Regions from separate parts of the Homo sapiens genome. Here regions 1 and 3 are each linked to region 2. Evidence: fine-mapped expression QTL. A gene starts in region 2. Each other region holds a variant in brackets. All regions are shown on one strand. Distances are from middle to middle. Region 1 has its middle 4.9 kb from the start of DYNC2I2. Region 2 holds the start of ZDHHC12 (zDHHC palmitoyltransferase 12). Region 3 has its middle 2.8 kb from the start of TRR-TCT3-1.

What was found. PIP is the estimated chance that this variant, and not a neighbour inherited with it, causes the effect.
Region 1: its variant is fine-mapped to the expression of ZDHHC12 in whole blood (TOPMed, PIP above 0.99).
Region 3: its variant is fine-mapped to the expression of ZDHHC12 in T cells (TOPMed, PIP 0.99).

What each region holds. Positions count from the first base shown.
Region 1 is chr9:128,660,297-128,663,141 of GRCh38, reverse strand. It overlaps a transcript of DYNC2I2 not described here and the pseudogene HMGA1P4. Among named protein-coding and RNA genes, the nearest start is that of DYNC2I2, 4.9 kb to the right of the region's middle. The variant C/T (reference allele first, on the strand shown) is at 1,334.
Region 2 is chr9:128,723,104-128,725,603 of GRCh38, reverse strand. ZDHHC12 (zDHHC palmitoyltransferase 12) reads left to right here and starts at 1,477. Exons shown (of 5, transcript NM_032799.5): 1 at 1,477-1,610. The coding sequence starts at 1,511. ZDHHC12-DT (ZDHHC12 divergent transcript) reads right to left here and starts at 1,142. Exons shown (of 2, transcript NR_046240.1): 1 at 969-1,142. RefSeq lists a silencer at 1,109-1,588.
Region 3 is chr9:128,335,981-128,338,811 of GRCh38, reverse strand. No RefSeq gene overlaps it. Among named protein-coding and RNA genes, the nearest start is that of TRR-TCT3-1, 2.8 kb to the left of the region's middle. RefSeq lists a silencer at 1,395-1,553. The variant G/A (reference allele first, on the strand shown) is at 1,443.

The DNA of each region.
Region 1 (2,845 bases), 63 kb after region 2:
GGCAGAGATCAGAGAGGTTCAATCTGGATCATTAAGAATGAATTGGGGCCGGGCGCCGTGGCTCACGCCTGTAATCCTAGCACTTTGGGAGGCTGAGGCAGGCGGATCACCTGAGGTCAGGAGTTTGAGACCAGCCTGGCCAAACCCCATCTCTACCAAATATACAAAAATTAGCCAGGTGTGGTGGCCCACGCCTGTAGTCCCAGCTACTCAGGAGACTGAGACATGAGAAATGCTTGAACCTGTGAGGCAGAAACTCCGTCTCAAAAGAAAAAAAAGGCTGGGTGCAGTGGCTCACTCCTGTAGTCCCAGCACTTTGGGAGGCCAAGGCAGGTGGATCACCCGAGGTCAGGAGCTCGAGACCAGCCTGGCTAACATGGTGAAACCTACAAAAATTAGCCCAGCATGGTGGCAGTTGTCTGTAATCCCAGCTACTCTGTAGGCTGAAGCAGGAGGATCACTTGAACCTAGGAGGTGAAGGTTGCAGTGAGCCAAGATCGTGCCACTACACTCCAGCCTGGGGGATAGAGTGAGACTCTGCCTGCAAAAAAATAAATAAATAAATTAGCCATGAATGGTGGCGGGTGCCTGTAATCCCAGCTACTCGGGAGGCTGAGGCAGGGAGAATTGCTTGAACCCAGGAAGTAGGTTGCAGTGAGCCGAGATCGCGCCATTGCACTCCAGCCTGGGCAACAAGAGCAAAACTCCATCTCAAATAAAACAAAACAAAACACCCAAGACTGTAACACTTGTGTTTTGGAATTATGAATATCCTGCTGCTTTATGTCCAGTATCCATCTGTAGGGCACACCAGCCTCTCAACACAAAGAGCATGGGCAGATGGCGCTTTCATTATGGCCACCATTGATTGAGCCCCCTTCAGGTTTCAGGCTCTTTTTTTTTTTCCCCAAGACGGAGTCTCGCGCTGTTGCCCAGGCTGGAGTGCAATGGCGCAATCTCGGCTCACTGCAACCTCCGCCTCCCAGGTTCAAGTGATTCTCCTGCCTCAGCCTCCAAAGTAGCTGGGACTACAGGCACATGCAACCATGCCCAGCTAATTTTTTGTATGTTTAGTAGAGATGGGGTTTCTTTTTTTTTTTTGAGATGGAGTCTCGCTCTGTCGCCAGGCTGGATTGCAGGGGTGCAATCTCGGCTCACAGCAACCTCCACCTCCCAGGTCCAAGTGATTCTTCTGCCTCTGCCTCCCTAGTAGCTGGGATTACAGGCGCCTGCCACCACGCCCAGCTAATTTTTGTATTTTTAGTAGAGACGGGGTTTCACCATGTTGGCTAGGCTGGTCTCCAACTCCTGACCTCAGGTGATCCGCCTACCT[C/T]GGCCTCCCAAAATGCTGGGATTACAGGCATGAGCCACCAAGCCCGGCCGGCTTTTTTTCAGACATTCATCCCCTGAGGATCAAGTAAGTGTGATTGTTATTAGGACCTGATGCATGGGAGCCTCCAAAGTAGCTGGGAATACAGGTGCCTGACACCACGCCCGGCTAATTTTTTGGTTTGTCTTTTTCTGAGACAGAGTTTCACTCTTATTGCCCAGGCTGGAGTGCAACGGCTCAATCTCGGCTCACTCCAACCTCCACTTCCTGGGTTCAAGCGATTCTCCTGCCTCAGACTCACGAGTAGCTGAGATAACAGGCACCCGCTATGTCACCCGTATAATTTTTGTATTTTTGTAGAGACAAGGTTTCACCATGTTGGCCAGGCTGGTCTTGAACTCCTGACCTCAGGTGATCTGCCCACCTCGGCCTCCCAAATTGCTGGATTACAGGCGTGAGCCACCATGCCAGGCTGGTTTTTCTTTTTGTTTTTTTTTTTTTTTTTTTGAGATGGAGTCTCACTCTGTTACCCAGACTGGAGTGCAGTGGGGTAGCAATTCTCCTGCCTCGGTCTCCGGAGTAGCTGGGATTACAGGCATGCACCACCACATCTGGCTAATTTTTGTATTTTTAGTAGAGACAGGGTTTCACCATGTTCATCAGGCTGGTCTGGAACTCCTGACCTCAGGTGATCCACCTGCCTTGGCCTCCCAAATTGCTGGGATTACAGGCGTGAAACATTGCGGCCGGCTCAACACAACAACCTCATTATTAAAACAGCTTTGACCTGGCGCAGTGGCTTTTGCCTGTAATTCCAGCACTTTGGGAGGCTGAGGTGCGCAGATCCTGAGGTCAGGAGTTCGAGACCAGCCTGGCCAATATGGTGAAACCCCGTCTCTACTAAAAATACAAAAATTAGCCGGGTGTGGTGGTGCATGCCTGTAGTCCCAGCTACTTGGGAGGCTGAGGCAAGAGAATCACTTGAACTCAAGAGGTGAAGGTTGCAATGAGCCGAGATTGTGCCACTACACTTGAGCCTGGATGACAGAGCGTGACACCATCTCAAAAACATAAATAAATAAATAAAAAATAAAAATAAAATTAGACAGCTTTGTCAGGCCAGGCATGGTGGCCCATGCCTATAATCCCAGTACTTTGGGAGGCTGAGGTGGGCGGATCATGAGGTCAGGAACTCGAGACCATCCTGGCTAACATGGTGAAAGCCTGTCTCTACTGAACATACAAAAAATTAGTTGAGCGTGGTGGCATGCGCTACTCTGAAGGCTGAGGCAGGAGAATCGCTTGAACCCGGGAGGCAGCAGTTGCAGTGAGCCAAGATCACACCACTGCAGTCCACTCTGGGCAACAGAACAAGACTGTTTAAAAAAAAAAAGAAATAATAGGCAGGGCACAGTGGCTCATGCCTGTAATCCCAGCACTTTGGGAGGCCGAGGTGGGCAGATCACAAGGTCAGGAGATCGGGACCATTCTGGCTAACACGGTGAAACCTTGTCT
Region 2 (2,500 bases):
GAGAATCACTTGAACTTGGGAGGTGGAGGTTGCAGTGAGCCCAGATCGCGCCACTGCACTCCAGCCTAGGCAACAGAGTGAGGCTCTGTCTCAAAAAAAAAAAAAAAAAAAAGGTGGGCATTCATTGACTCTTGCAACCAGGGGATGCAGAGTCAGTATCAGCTTCAGGGACAGCCGGATCTAGAGGGCTCAGACAATGTTGTTCAGACCATCTCTTGCTCCCTCCTTTAGTGCTGCTTATCCATCTCTATGTGTCTTTATAAGTTGGTCTCATTTTCTCCAGCCACAGACAGGGTAAGCCCTCTCCGCCCAGCGTAAAGACGGCTCCCAGTTGCCTTATATCCCATTCCTTAGGCTTGAGATCCAAAAGAATGCTCCTTCCTCTCAGCATCTAGACAGTAATCTCATGGAAGGCCTGTGATTGGTTCTGCAGAGTCGAAAGCCCACAGCCTGCCGCTCGCCATCCTATGGGGTGAGGGGCAGTCCCTCCAATCACATGGGATGGGAAGTCGATTCCCCAACCAAAAAAAGGATGTTGAGCTGAGAAAAACAACAGATGTCAGAGGAGTATCCTGGAGGAGCTGGGATGGGGCCAATCAGAGGGAGGCGGAGGAGGATGCTGGTATCAGTGGGAGGTGCTGTGGAAAGGCGGGGCTGAGTGGAGAAGGCCCTGGGGACACAGGGAAGGAGGACAGCCTGCAGCCTCCGGTGAGGAAAGTCCGCCTGTAGGTGGTGGCTCACAGCAGGAGAGGCAAGACAGTCCCGTGCTAGACAAGGCGCTTCCATTATTTAATCCTCCCAAACACCTTAGGAGGAAGACACTATTGTAATCCCCCTTATAGAGACAGAAAACAGCTCAGAGGGGCTCAGTAACTCGCCCAGGGTCACACAGGTAGGAAGGGGCAGTGCTGGGATTTCTGACTCCCGCCTAAGTTGGATCACCCATAGTCAGAATGTGCACCACGTACCTCCACTTTTCTCTCGTCCGTTTGCAATATCTGAGAATACATAGCAAGGAGGTAAAGCTGTCACCACAGAGCAACCTTGGGCGAGCCTTGGCCCTCTCGAGACTTTAGTCATCACATCTTTGAAATGGGTACAATTTTGCCTCCCGGACTCACAGCAAGCCGCTGGATCTTCGAAGCGCCCAGGGAGCTACGCGCATGCGCGAGGCTGCGAGGGCGGGCACAGGGGAACGCGGGGGAGGGCACAGCGGAGCGCGGGGGAGGTGCGCGCGCGCTCCGGCGCTTTCAAAAGTTACCTGGCGGGTGGGGCTGGAGTTGAGGGAGTTACCAGCTGCGCGCGCGCCGGCCCCACCCTCAGCCTCTTCAGGCACCTGTTGGCTTGAGGGTCCATTCGGCCGCAGATGCCATCCAATAGGCAGCCTCCCTGACCCAGTCCGGCCCCGCCCAACGCCTAGATCCACCAGTCCCCGGGCGGCGGCGTTCCCCTCCCTCGGAGGGCCCGCCCCTCTGGGCGCTTCTTCCGGGTGGGGCCCCGGGCCGAGGCGATGGCGCCCTGGGCGCTCCTCAGCCCTGGGGTCCTGGTGCGGACCGGGCACACCGTGCTGACCTGGGGAATCACGCTGGTGCTCTTCCTGCACGATACCGGTGAGCCGGACCCCGAGCGACCCCGGACCCACCCGATCCCGCGTACTTCCCCAGACGTTCTGGTCACACTGGGTCTCCCGCCTAATCCCTGGAGATCCTGGGATTGGCCCGATCTCCACCAGCTCCTGAAGCCCTCTCCCCATCTATCATTCCAAGAGCCACCTGCTCTCTGTCTGATACCCCGTTGATCCCTAATTAATCCCAGCATCTTCCTGATCATTGCCAAATGCCCTGTCCATCCCAGGACCCAGCCGGTGCCCACCAGATCCAAGGACCGACTTGAGCCCCATGTCCCCTGATCCTGGGACCCACATGATCCTTCCCAGGAACTGACCCCAAATCTTCCTATCCATACGATTAGGAGGCTCAACTAGATGCAAAGATTGGCATTCTGCCCACACCCACACCCCCCACACCCCCATGGCCACTAGCTGCCCAAGTCCAGGCAAACCCTCAGGCCAGAGAACACTCCATGGGGTGCGGCCTGTCTCCCATCTTCCCACAGATTCACCCACCCACCCACCTCCATTTCCCTCATTCCTCTTAGTAGCCCCCTACCCAGCGCCTCACCTGCCACAGGCAGCCTCCCCCACTGTCCCCCACAGCAGACCCCAGCCCTCCTTCCATGGCGGTCCAGCCTCAGTTTCTGGACTGGGGCCCCTTCTGGCTTTCCTCCCAAGACAGACCTCCTCCACCACCTTCACCCTTTAGCCTAAAAACTTGCTCAGGTCTCCGTATCAGAAAACCCCCCTCAAAACCCACCCTTTCTTCTCTGCTCCCCCTTACAACCAAGGGACACAGGATTTGTCTACACTCTGCTGTCTGGTGGTCTCATGCCCCCTCACTCCTTGCCCTGCACCCTACCTCCCCAAAATCCTGTCACCTCCCTG
Region 3 (2,831 bases), 390 kb after region 2:
CTTGAGTAAATTCCAGCACCACATCCTTCATGGGTATCACCATCAGGAGGCAGAATGTGCAGTGGTATGGGCATGAGCATTGAGTTCGCCTTCTCAGCTGAAAGGTCAAGATTCATTTTGTTCTTACATATAAAAAATGGGACATACTAATTAATAATACCTCACAGGGTCAGCGTGGAGATTTGTGGGGAGTATTTTTTTTTTTTTTCCGAGACGGAGTCTTGCTCTGTCGCCCAGGCTGGAGTGCAGTGGCGCGATCTCGGCTCACTGCAAGCTCCGCCTCCCAGGTTCACGCCATTCTCCTGCCTCAGCCTCCCGAGTAGCTGGGACTACAGGCGCCCGCCACCAGGCCCAGCTAATTTTTTTGTATTTTTTTTAGTAGAGACAGGGTTTCACCGTGTCAGCCAGGATGGTCTCGATCTCCTGACCTCGTGATCCACCCGCCTCAGCCTCCCAAAGTGTTGGGATTACAGGCATGAGCCACTGCGCCTGGCACAACATTTCTTGAATGAATGAAAGGGAGAGTGAATTGGAGGCTCTGACCTTATGCACACCAGGATTCGTGAGTATAATCATGAGTACTTCCACATCAACTACTGAGGTCATATGCAAGTGGGCAGGTGAGAGTTAGCGGGAGGATGCTGGTGACCAGCCACCTGCTCTCCTTCAGTCAGGCTCGTCACACTGGAGAAACCAAAGCAGTACCACCGGACATTGGATCAGGCCTGAGGGGGAGAAGCAAGACAACACAGAACAGGACAGCCTGCCTTTCAGTTGCTTACAGTCTAGCTGGCCGCACAGAGGACAGGTGGAAGTGAGATGGAATAGGTCATCCCTCACTCAGTGCTCACTGTGCTGGTGTCACGCTCATCACAGTATTGTCATTAAAATTTTTTAATTTTTTTTTTTTGAGATGGGGTCTCACTCCTGTTGCCCAGACAATCACAGCTGACTGCAGCCTTCACCTCCTGGGCTCAGGTGCTCCTGCTACCTCAGCCTCCTGGGTAGCTAGGGCTACAGGTGTGCGCCACCACACCTGGCTAATTTTTTGTATTTTTAGTAGAGACGAGGTTTCATCATGTTGTTCAGGCTAGTCTGGAACTCTTGAGCTCAAGTCATCTGCCCCCCCAGGCCTCCCAAAGTGCTGGGACTCCAGGCATGAGCCACCCCCCGCCAAGCTCTACCAACAAAATAATTTCAGAGTGGTGAATGCTCTAAAGAAAATAAGGGCATAGTGCAGTGGCTCATATCTGGAATACCAGCACTTTGGGAGGTCAAGGCAGGAAGATGGCTTGAGGCCAGGAGTTCAAGACCAGCCGAGCCAACATAGCAAGACCCTGTCTCTACAAAAGAAAAAAAAAAAAAAAAAGCCGGGCCCGGTGGCCCACACCTGTAATCCCAGCACTTTGGGAGGCTGAGGCGGGGGGATCACAAGATCAGGA[G/A]TTTGAGACCAGCCTGACCAACATGGTGAAACCACATCTCTACTAACAATTAAAAAAAAAATCAGCCGGGCGTGGTGGCAGGCACCTGTAATCCCAGCTACTCGGGAGGCTGAGGCAGGAGAATCGCCTGAACCCAGTAGGTGGGAGGTTGCAGTGAGCCGAGATCACGCCATTGCACTCCAGCCTGGGCGACAGAGTGAGACTCCATCCACTCCCCCCGCCAAAAAAAAAAAAAAAAAAAAGAAACCACTTGACTGGGCACGGTGGCTCAGGCATGTAATCCTAGCACTTTGGGATGCCAAAGTGGGCAGATCACCTGAGGTCAGGATTTCGAGACCAGCCTGGTCAACATGGTGAAACCCCGTCTCTACTAAAAATAAAAATTAGCTGGACATGGTGGTGCACCCCTGTAATCCCACCTACTTGGGAGGCTGAGGCAGGAGAATTGCTTGACCCTGGGAAAGGGAGGTTGCAGTAAGCTGAGATCACGCCATTGCACTCCAGCCTGGGTGACAGAGCGAGACTCCATCTCAAAACAAAAAAACAAAAAAAAACAAAACAAACAAAAAAAACTTAGCTAGGCGTGGTGGCATGCATCCATAGGCCCAGCTACTAGGGAAGCTAAAACAAGAGGATCCTGGAGCCCAGGAGGTCGAGGCTGTAGTGAGCCGTCATAGTGGCACTGCACTCCAGCCTGGGTGACAGAATGAGACCCCATCTCAAAAAATAAATAATAATAAACAGAAGATGATAGCATGGAGAGAGGCAGAGGGGGACTAGGGACTGCTTTAGATGGCAGGAAGCCCAGGAAGACATCTCTGCTGTGACATTTGAGCAGAGATGTGAATGACAAGGAGCTCACCATGTAACAACCTGGGGACACGGTGCTGTTCCCAAAGGCAGGAAGAAGCCTGGTGTGTTCAGGGAGCAGGATGAAGGCAAGCATGGTTTACTGAGATGGGAGAATAGACGTTTCTAGGCAGAAGTTGGTAGGGCCTCACCAGTGATTACCTATAGCCAGTTTGATTTTTCTCCAATCATGAGCTGGTAACACAAATGCCACCCTATACTCAGGAGACCAGACTCCATTCCCAGCTAAGCCTGATGCTTTGTGTCCATCTCACAAGTGCTACAAAGGCCCAGGGTTGTCCAGGCACTGCCTGCCTAGAGCAGGTGAGCTGCTCAGCTGGGCAGTGAAGGCCATCTGTCTGACCTCCGCTGCCACCCTGGCACTGTTGACTTTAGTGAGCTGCAGTGGGGGTGCCTGGGACCCTGGGAAGCTGCAGAAACAGCTGGCAGGTCTGCAGAGACTGGTGAGGTATGGGGACTCACTAGCATGGCCTCCTTTTCCCGCAGATTCAAGGAGCTCAGAACAAGGTTTCCCTCCTG